Homo sapiens: one gene and its partners. The protein of the gene in region 3 interacts with the protein of the main gene of each other region in a pairwise test. Each region holds a gene or a part of one and is shown on either strand. Other genes may lie near its edges. The genes, in order: ORMDL1, FMR1 and PCNX2.

What was found.
Region 1: the proteins of PCNX2 (region 3) and ORMDL1 interact in binary tests that used the Homo sapiens proteins (3 or more experiments, as listed by UniProt).
Region 2: the proteins of PCNX2 (region 3) and FMR1 interact in a two-hybrid assay, tested with the Homo sapiens proteins (one large-scale study listed by IntAct).

What each region holds. Positions count from the first base shown.
Region 1 is NC_000002.12:189,771,905-189,774,349, forward strand, and holds part of ORMDL1 (ORM1-like protein 1), read right to left. Parts: intron 2,211-2,445; coding exon of another isoform or gene 2,201-2,210; exon of another isoform or gene 1,945-2,200; intron 1-1,944. UniProt on the Homo sapiens protein: Plays an essential role in the homeostatic regulation of sphingolipid de novo biosynthesis by modulating the activity of the serine palmitoyltransferase (SPT) in response to ceramide levels.
Region 2 is NC_000023.11:147,939,404-147,943,062, reverse strand, and holds part of FMR1 (fragile X messenger ribonucleoprotein 1), read right to left. Parts: intron 2,488-3,659; coding exon 2,401-2,487; intron 1-2,400.
Region 3 is NC_000001.11:232,988,126-232,991,784, forward strand, and holds part of PCNX2 (pecanex-like protein 2), read right to left. Parts: intron 1-3,659. UniProt on the Homo sapiens protein: May play a role in tumorigenesis of colorectal carcinomas with high microsatellite instability (MSI-H).

The DNA of each region.
Region 1 (2,445 bases), on a different chromosome or scaffold from region 3:
GTAGAGATAAAAGTTAAGAATATATATAACATCCAAAAATAAAATTACTTGGAACTTAAACAATTTTAAAGGTAGAAAAAAAGGCCACTAAAGCATAAATACCTAAAAATGAAACTATTTTTGAGCACTAAAACAAGAGGAATCGGTTTGGTCCCAAGTTTATCTCATTAGGAACTAAAAAATTTGTTTAATGGAGGTCCACATTTTCCATTTCTGCAATTGTATTAAATACATTTAATAGAACACACTGCATCCTTTAAAGCAAGGCTTATCAAACTAGGGTTCATATGCCCTCTGTAATTACAGGTGTAGTTCTGTATTTCCATGTATGTTTCTGAAAAAGATATGGATTCAAAGCATTCATCTTATTCTCAAAAAGTTTTGTGACTCACAGGTTAAGAACCTGTACTGTAAAGCTCCAAAAAATGGGGTTTTAGTGCATTAGTACAATTCCTATCTTTGAAGGAAATAAATATTTGGTTGCCCTTTTGATGTTCTCATTTTCATACTGTAGTTGAGCAGCTCTATAACCAGTTTAACCGGTAACCTGAAAGACACTGTTGTACCATTCCAGCTGCTTTTTAATAATCAAATGCATGTATGTTTTTGGATATCCAACTGAGAATTTGTTTTAACAAGCCCCAAGCCTAAAAAGCACCTTTAAAATCATAAATCACCAAGTCCAGAATGTTTAGTTTTACCTACAGGTATATCATATCAAGGTGCAGACACATCATCTGATTACTAACAGAATAATACAGATAAGATGTAAAGAATAAAACATCATATCTTATTTGTTCATAATTAAGAAGTTAGTTTCTATTTAGGTCTTTGCAGTACGCAAGGAAAGTATTCTAATAGCCTTTACTGACATTAGTTTCTCATAAGGGAAAATAAATATCTTGTGTAACATGGTTAGAAGAGAGGAGCTACTTCCAAGTATGACAAAAAACATCACAAGAGAATTTTATACATTTTTAAAACCATCTAGATTGAGAAATTCTACAATCTTCCACCTATTTTGCAAACTACAGTCAGAAAATTCTTTCTCTAGTGTAAACCATATTCCTCAATTCTGAAATTCTTTCTTCCTGTTTTCATATATTTGAAGACTAAATTTATACTTCCTTTACTGAACAAAATAGGACATCACTTGCATTTAGCAAACTCATTTCATTTCCCACCATCATTACAGGTTGAATCTATAATCTGATAGGTTAGAAATAATAAATCTTATAATGGGTTCTTTTGACTATAACCTAGCATATGTCCCCTTTTTGTCTTTTAATTAAAACTAATTTTGTGTGTAGATTATATGAAAATTACTTGACTCTTTCAAAAACTTAGGCAATCCTCTGATGGTATGCAAAACCCAGGTGGGACTCAGTGTGACAACATTTATTTGCCAACAGCTATATTGGAAAGAGACCTGTATTACAAGATAGTAGTTTAGGGTTTAACCTGAGCTCTGAACTCCAACTAGGTGCAAGATCTTCAACAAGGTAATGCATTTGAGTCTGTTTCTTTACTTAAAAATCTGGAATATGGTGGCTCACCCTGTAATCCCAGCACTTTGGGAGGCCAAGGCAGGCGGATCACCTGAGGTGAGAAGTTCAAGACCAGCCTGGTCAACATGGTGAAACCCCATCTCTACTAAAAATACAAAAAGTAGCTGGGCACGGTGGTGCACGCCTGTAGTCCCAGCTACTGGGGAGGCTGAGGCAGGAGAATCGCTTGAACCTGGGAGGCGGAGGTTGCAGTGAGCCAAGATTATGCCACTGCACTCCGGCCTGGGCAGCAGAGCAAGACTCTTGTCTCAAAAAAAAAAAAAATTCTGGAATAACATTCCATGTCACACCTACCTGACAAATAATCAAATAAGAAAATGTGAAAGCACTGAAAAGTCCTAATGCTATATAGATGGCTTTAATGCTATTTCTTCAGTTAAGTAAGCAATTTAATCAGAATATTTGAAATCATACCTGTTGGTCAAAAATACATTTTGAGAAATATGGACACTGTATACAGGTACATCTCAGTTGGCTTTTTGTGTGATAGCTGTGATTAAAACTTCTGAATGTCAGGCATTTTACATGTATTATAATGCAATCCTCAATGTTTTACAGATGAGAAAACTGAGCTTTTGAAGAAAACGGCCAAAAGTCACAGAGCTTCAAAGGGGTTGAGCCAAAATCCAAATTCAGGGCCATCTGAATAACCAATATTTTTGTTATTACATGCATGCATGCATTCATTCACTTATTTATTTAATAAATCGGGTCTTGCTCTGTTGCCCAGACTGGAGTACAGCAGTGTGACTACAGCTCACTGCAGCCTCTTAACTCCTAGGCTCAAACCATCTTCCTGCCTCAGCTTCCCATGTAGCTTACATTTATTTTTATCAGACTACACTGACACTTTTCTTTGAGGTTAATATTATATGGG
Region 2 (3,659 bases), on a different chromosome or scaffold from region 3:
TCATCAGATAAAAATATACTGGAATATTTCAATTTCAGTTCTAAATTTACAGTAAACACTGTTACACAGAATTATCAGGAAATTGAATGATCTCCTTAAAAAGAAAATTACTACAGATAACAGATTATTGATGTCAAGAATTAGAGATATAACAAAAACACTCAGCAGTAAAATTATACTGAATAAAATTTAAAGTTGTCTAATTTGGCACTATTATCCAATTATTCTACTGCTAAGGCACAGATATGCTATTTTGGGGACTTCTTCATGATAGGATATTAAATAAAACATGCTAAAATGTATGAATATAGATAAATGACATTCAAGGTATAACCAGCTAACCTTAAAAATCACACATTGTAAATAATCTTGATTAAAATAGATTTGCCAGTTAATATCTTAATTTACAAAGCATTGAGTTTGGGCCATCTTTTGTTTTAAAAGAACATATACTATGGTTAAGGAACAATGATTTTTTCATCAACTGAAAATGCTGACTATTCCTCATGAGGGGAAAACAAAACTATTTAATAGCTGACCAGACAGCTAGGTCTTACATCATGCCTTGAAAACTTCCTAAAGACTACAACTCTGCTACAACAAGTACGAGAAACAGTATACATTTAGTTGATAGAAATATACACCTGGGGTCCAATGACAGACCCTTACAAAAAGCACTTCCAGTATGTTGGGTTCTGTTAAAACCAGATGAAACCTCATTTCTAACCACTGTCCTTCCAATCCACTCATAAACATCTCATTTACTGGCTACGGGGAATCAGATTCATAACTATAGTAGTAGTAGGCGTCTCAGTGAAGCAGAGGTTATCATAGAGACTGTCTACATGAACAGTCATTGGAGAAGCTCCTGTAAAGCTAAGTTTCTAAAATCTTGGTTGTGGCAGCTTCTGGAAAAGAAAGGTCAGGTAAGGATTTGGTCCGTTTCATCTGTGCTCTGCCATCATTAGCAATTTACATAGTTACACCAGAATCTGTTTTACATAGAATTTGAGCAAAGGAGAGACTGCAGCTGAGTGAGTGACTTCCTCCAAAGGTATAGTAATAGCTCATGGAATAGGAATATCTTGCAAAACAGAAGAGTAGTCCAGGTTATCCCACTGGGGCAAAGCAGTCACCTTTTGGTGAGAGATGCCAGGCCCAAACGAGGGAAGTTCTGGTGATGGAAAGAATGGCAACAGGGCAGCTGCTGATAACCAAAGAAGATATTCTTGAGAATAAATCAAAGGATCTAAGAAAGAACATTAGTCAAAAGAACAAGGGATTTGATACAATGCAATCCTAACTCTCCAGGCCTTCATGATGATTTAAGCTAATTACGAGAGAGACACACACACAGAGAGATTACACATAAACATACTTAAAAAAAAATCAAAGAGGTATCCTACCCATGTAAACCTTGCTGGATGAAACCTTTCCACTTTTAATTAACTGGCCACCATAAGAATGAATGGCATGCCCAGTATTACACTTTTTCTTCCTTTCATTCTTATTTACACACAAGCAGAAATCATGTACTTTTTATTTCTTTCAAGAAATCAGCAAAAAAATTCTTAATGCCATAAATAGAGTTGAAATGCTTTTTAAAAACATTTAATACCAGCTACATTATAATTTTGATATGTATGGATACAAATAAAACATTATGAAAATGAAGTAGATCAGTTTCCATTTCATTAAAGTATAGAACATTTTGGCCAAAAGGAATTTCAAGAAGCATCTAGTGTAGGGAAGTGACTTGCCTAAAGTCACACAGCTAGTTCATTTGCTGAAGTCTTATAAGTAAATTGCTGCATTGCCCATCCAGTGCTTGCTCCACTACACCTTGTAGCCTCCTCGTTCCTATCTTCCAGTTTGAAATTTTAAGGAGGCATAACCGCATCACACTAACTAAACTGAACATTTATGAGAAGACACAAATAGTTTGTATTTTGAATAACAGTAAAGAGAAAAATAGGGTAAACATTTAAACAAAGAACTTCATGAAATGCTTAGATTTCCTTGATAAATGACATAAAAGGAACAATAAAGGCAAGAGTTATAGACACAGATTTTTGTCTGGAAAAAACCAAAATGCTAGAAAGGATCAAATGGATTAACAGGCTATGTACAGGATTGCCTAAACTGAGTGTAAGGGTTTAAGAGAAGAATAAAGGGAAGTATAAAATTTTATTGAAAACTGGTATATTGGTACTTAAATTTATAAAGACTTCCATTTTTAAAAAAATTATAAGCCAAACAACGTATTTTCTCTATTACCTTTGACAAGTCATACAGTGTTTTGCACAGGCTAGAATGAGTCCTAACTGCTGAAAGATCTACTATAAAGTTTGTATATTTTAGTACAAAAGGATTAGAAGTTAAAGTTCTTTCTGTTCTCACCTTTAAATAGTTCAGGTGATAATCCAAAAGAACAGTGGCATTAGCGATGCTGTCCTTTGTTCCCACAAAAACAAATGGTACCATACCCTGAAAAAGAAATTGCAACAATGATCCTATAAAAGTAATGATAGATTAATCTGAAAAATGCAAATAACGACTAATTCCCTAGCACAGGATCTGGTGAACAGCAGGTATACAAATGTTTGCTGTAAATATAAATCAATATATGAAAACAAAAGTAGTTGATATACTACTTTACACATCTACTGTGAATACGAATAGATCAATAGCAACCTTTTAAACGTATCAGATTATTATAAAGACTAGTATTCAGTATCAGCAAAATCACAAAATGTATAATTCAAAATTATACAAGCTTTACCATGAGATGTATAAACAAAATGAGTAGTATAAGATGCTCTAATTCATTTATGAAAGGCTTTATCCTGATCAAAATTTTTTCTTTTTTTTTTTTCTTTTTTGTTTTTTTTTTTTTTTTTTTGAGACGGAGTCTCGCTCTGTCGCCCAGGCTGGAGTGCAGTGGCGGGATCTCGGCTCACTGCAAGCTCCACCTCCCGGGTTCACGCCATTCTCCTGCCTCAGCCTCCCAAGTAGCTGGGACTACAGGCACCCGCCACTACGCCCGGCTAATGTTTTGTTTTTTTAGTAGAGACAGGGTTTCACTGTTTTAGCTGGGATGGTCTCGATCTCCTGACCTCGTGATCCGCCCGCCTCCGCCTCTTTTTTTTTTTTTTTTTTTGAGACAGGGTCTTTTTATTCTGTTATCCAGGCTGGAGTGCAGTGGCATGATAATGGCTCGCTGTAGCCTCGACCTCCCCAGGCCCTAGGTGTTCCTCCCACCTCAGCCTCCTGGATAGCTGGGACAACACGTGCATGCCATCATACCCAGCTAAATTTTTGTACTTTCTGTAGAGACGGGGTTTCGCCACATTGCCCAGGCTGGTCTCGAATTCCTGGGCTCAGGCGATCTGCCTGCCTTGGCCTCCCAAAGTGTCGGGACTACAGGCATGAGCCATCGCGCCTGGCCGATCAAATTCTTAAAAAAAAAATCAAAATGAAATACCAAGGGTACAAAAGTAAAAAGTAAATCATTTCTGCTAACCAAGTAAATAGAGTACACACAAAATACAAACAAAAACATCAGGATAAAAATGCACTGAATAATCTGTGAGACAAAAAAATAGGTACATTGACAAGCATTAAGTTTTATCAAGCCCATACACATTTCAATAATGTAC
Region 3 (3,659 bases):
AATAAGGAGGGCGATTTGTTAGTTTATTCAGTGTCTGGCAAGGCCGGACGTGTGTTTGTGATTTCTATCGTAAAGCTGATCACTGTCCAAAAATACTCCACATTTATCCACAAGTCAGTGATTGTGATGCTCAATAGAAGACCACCCATACTTGGTGGGGAACTTCCTAGAGAATTCCAGGAACAAGGGGACAAATAACCCACTGTGTGTCAAAGGGAAGTGGCCTGCTGTAGTCTGTGCAAGACAAGGACTCCCCCGCCACCCGATTTCATTGCTTCAGGTTTTCTCATTGCTCTTTTTTTTTTTTAATTAATTTTGCAAATGGAACAGCACTAAGGAAGCAAACCATGCTAAATGCATTTGTGCTACTCAAGATCATTATTTTACAATTTAACTTATTTTGCAAATAACTCTATTACCAAGTTATGAATGTTTCTAGGGAAAACCTTTTTAGAACCTGAATGGAAATACCTTACATATAAATCACCCTCCTTGGTTTATTATCGTGGCACTTAATTCCTTTGTCTTTGATGTTATCTGAACAATCGTGGTGTAGCTCCTTAGTAATATGAGAACACAGCCTCCCTCTCCAATCTGGGATTCGGATTAGTTATGAATTCCTAACTGCTCACCAGTAAGTAGGTCACCAGCCTCCACTGCTAGGCCAACTCCCCTTCCAGCTGTGACATATGCTTTTTACCCCAGCAAGACGTTTGCAGGTTGTCAGGACCTAGATGAGGCTGGCGTAGTGAGCGCCTGGCAGCTGGGTGCAAAGTGCTGTGTGCACCAGCAGCAGCAGATGCACAGCGTGGCTGGCCTGGGGAGAGGAGTTCTGTCTGTGAGGTCTCAGGCAGGAGGGACCCCAGTCCGCTCAGCCTCTAGCAAGGGCTCAGGATTGGGATACCTGACCAGAATTGAGGCAAGGACCAACGAAGGGTGGGGGCAGTTGGGTCCCCAGTTATGTGAGTTGAGTCTTGGTGACTTGGTGAGTAAAACAAGACCCTTGTTAGAATTTGTTTCAAATTCGCCCTTCAAAACTGCTCACTCGGCCGGGCACGGTGGCTCACGCCTGTAATCCCAGCACTTTGGGAGGCCGAGGCAGGCAGATCACGAGGTCAGGAGATCGAGACCATCCTGGCTAACACGGTGAAACCCCATCTCTACTAAAAATACAAAGAATTAGCCAGGCGTGGTGGCGGGCACCTGTAGTCCCAGCTACTCAGGAGGCTGAGGCAGGAGAATGGCGTGAACCCAGGAGGCGGAGCTTGCAGTGAGCCGAGATAGCGCCACTGCCGTCCGGCCTGGGTGAAAGAGTGAGACTCCGTCTCAAAAAAAAAAAAACTGCTCACTCTTTGCTACTTGGCTAAGGGTCTCTGTCATGCCCTTCCCAGAGAGGCAGGTCCTCCACTCTGAGAGGCCCCCAACCACCTCTCCAATGGCACTCAGCACACTGTGTTGTCACTGTCTGATGCACGGTCCTCTCCACTATGTGCCCTTTCTGCAGCAAAGGACCCCTGTATCACTTCTATGAGCTCAGCACCCAGTACACTAACATGTAAGTAAAGGATACACAGGACAAACCTGCAAAACTGACCAGATGCCAAAACGCTGATTAGAAATCCAGTGAGCTTCAGAAAGTTCGGGGTGGGTACAGTGTTTCTTAAACTTGGCCATTAGAAGCATTTCAAAAAATTAATCAATATCTTGACTAGAGGCTGAGACCCATAGGCAAGCGCCTGTAGATGGGCCCAAGGGGCTGCCACTGCAGACTGGAGGGCAAGCTAAAGGTTAGGAAAATAGGAAGGTGATTCCTCCATACTTCCAGGGTCAAGTCCAAAGATCTGGGATCAGGGAATGTTCTCCCCATAGCTGGAGACTGGCCTCTAACGCCCCTGCACTGGCCAAGCAGGTCTCTGGCTTCCTTTCTGGGAGCTGTGTGTCTCAACTCGGACGGGCATGGTTGTTTTACTTAACTAGAAGGAGGGTGAGAAGGAGGCCAGAGACTGAAATCAAATCCAGTTATCCTCACATCCCTGAAGGGAATGATGGCCTGCTGGGAATGGCAGGTAGGTGGTTTCCGCAAAGTGTCCCGGGCAGGGCCAGGCAGAGCCGCCCCTCCCGTTGTGGTAGCCTCCTTCTTGGGCTTGCTCTCCTTGGAACCTGGGCTACCTGCACACTGGGTCTCAGGTGCAGTGTCTTGAGGGGAATGAAAGCTCTGTGCTCCCGGTCGCAGTCAGTGCTAGAGAGCCTTCTGGATAGTTGAATCACATCTTGGAGGGATTCTGGCCGGGGGATTGGGGCACCAAGGTCATGATGGTACATTTCAGGAGAGCCAACAAGATCGGCAGCTCTTGGCTCCACTGCTCTTGGCTGTGACAGAACCTGCCTACAGCTGCAACTCTGAGACCCAAGGGCTTTGCACCCTCGCCCTCTAGGGAAGCTGTAGTGTAAGTGGCTGAGGCCAGGAGGGGTAACCATCCACTCATTCGTCCAACCTTTGTCTGCTGAGCCCAGATCATGCTTACCACCCAGCCCAGCACCTCAGAGGTTTCCCTTGGTGGCCCCTGCAGCCGTCTCTGTCCCCACAGGGCCAGGAAGCTGTGGAGACAGGAGCACGTCAACCAGCTCCCACCCACTCCTGCTTGGCCGTGTGCTGGGTTCCCAGGACTCCAGAACTCCCTGCCCCAAACTGGGGCCTGCACAGGCCTCTTCCCCAGGGTCGTCTCCCAGGGCGGACCTTGGGCCTACTTGCAGGCACGTGCACCCCCAGACGGGCATGTGAATGGGGAGGCTCCAGTGCATGCAGGCAGCCCCTCACCTGGCAGGATGTGGGGAGAGTGGGGAAGAGGGTGGTGTGGTCTTCACATGTGCTCCTGTCACAGGCTCTGCAGAAGTTAGGGCTGCCCACCTGAGCGTCCACCGTGGGCTGCACTGTCCTAGGTGCCGGGCAGTGAGCAGCTCATGGGAAATTCTGACCACAGACAAGGCACATGCATCAGGCAGGGATTGGAGGGGAGGAGAAAGTGGGGCAGGGGGACAGCAGTGCTGTATGGAAGGCTGGCCAGGGTCTCTTGGATAAGCTGGGATTTGATGGGAGGCTGTGTGAGTAAGCGAAGGAGCTGCAAGCCTGGGAGAGGGACACTGGGGACAGAGGAGGCAGCAGCTGAGGGGGCCCTGGAAAGGAGAATGCTTGACACTGTTGAGGGACAGCAAGAGACCGTGTGCTGGGGATGTGGGCTCATAAGAGAGGGCTGAGAGAAGGGAGAGAAGGCGTGAGAGAGAGAGCAGACCAGATGGGGGCCTGCGGGGGAGGGGTGCTCATGGGATGCGCGTGGGTGTTCCGGGCTGAATCATGTTCCCTCCCCAGACTCCTCTGTTGAAGCCCTAACCCCCAGGACCTCAGGGTGGGGCCTTACTTTGACACAGGGTCGTTGCAAATGTCATTAGTTAAGATGAGGTCATACTGGAGTAGGATGGGCCCTGAGTCCATGATGACCAGTGTCCTTATAAAAAGGGGACGTGTGGACACAGAGAAGTACAGGGAGAACATGATGTGAAGACCAAGCCAGAGCTCAGTGGTGCTTCTCGAGGCCGGGGGATGCCTAAGATGGCCGGTGAACCACCACAAGCTAGGGAAGGGTCCTGGACCCCACTCCCCT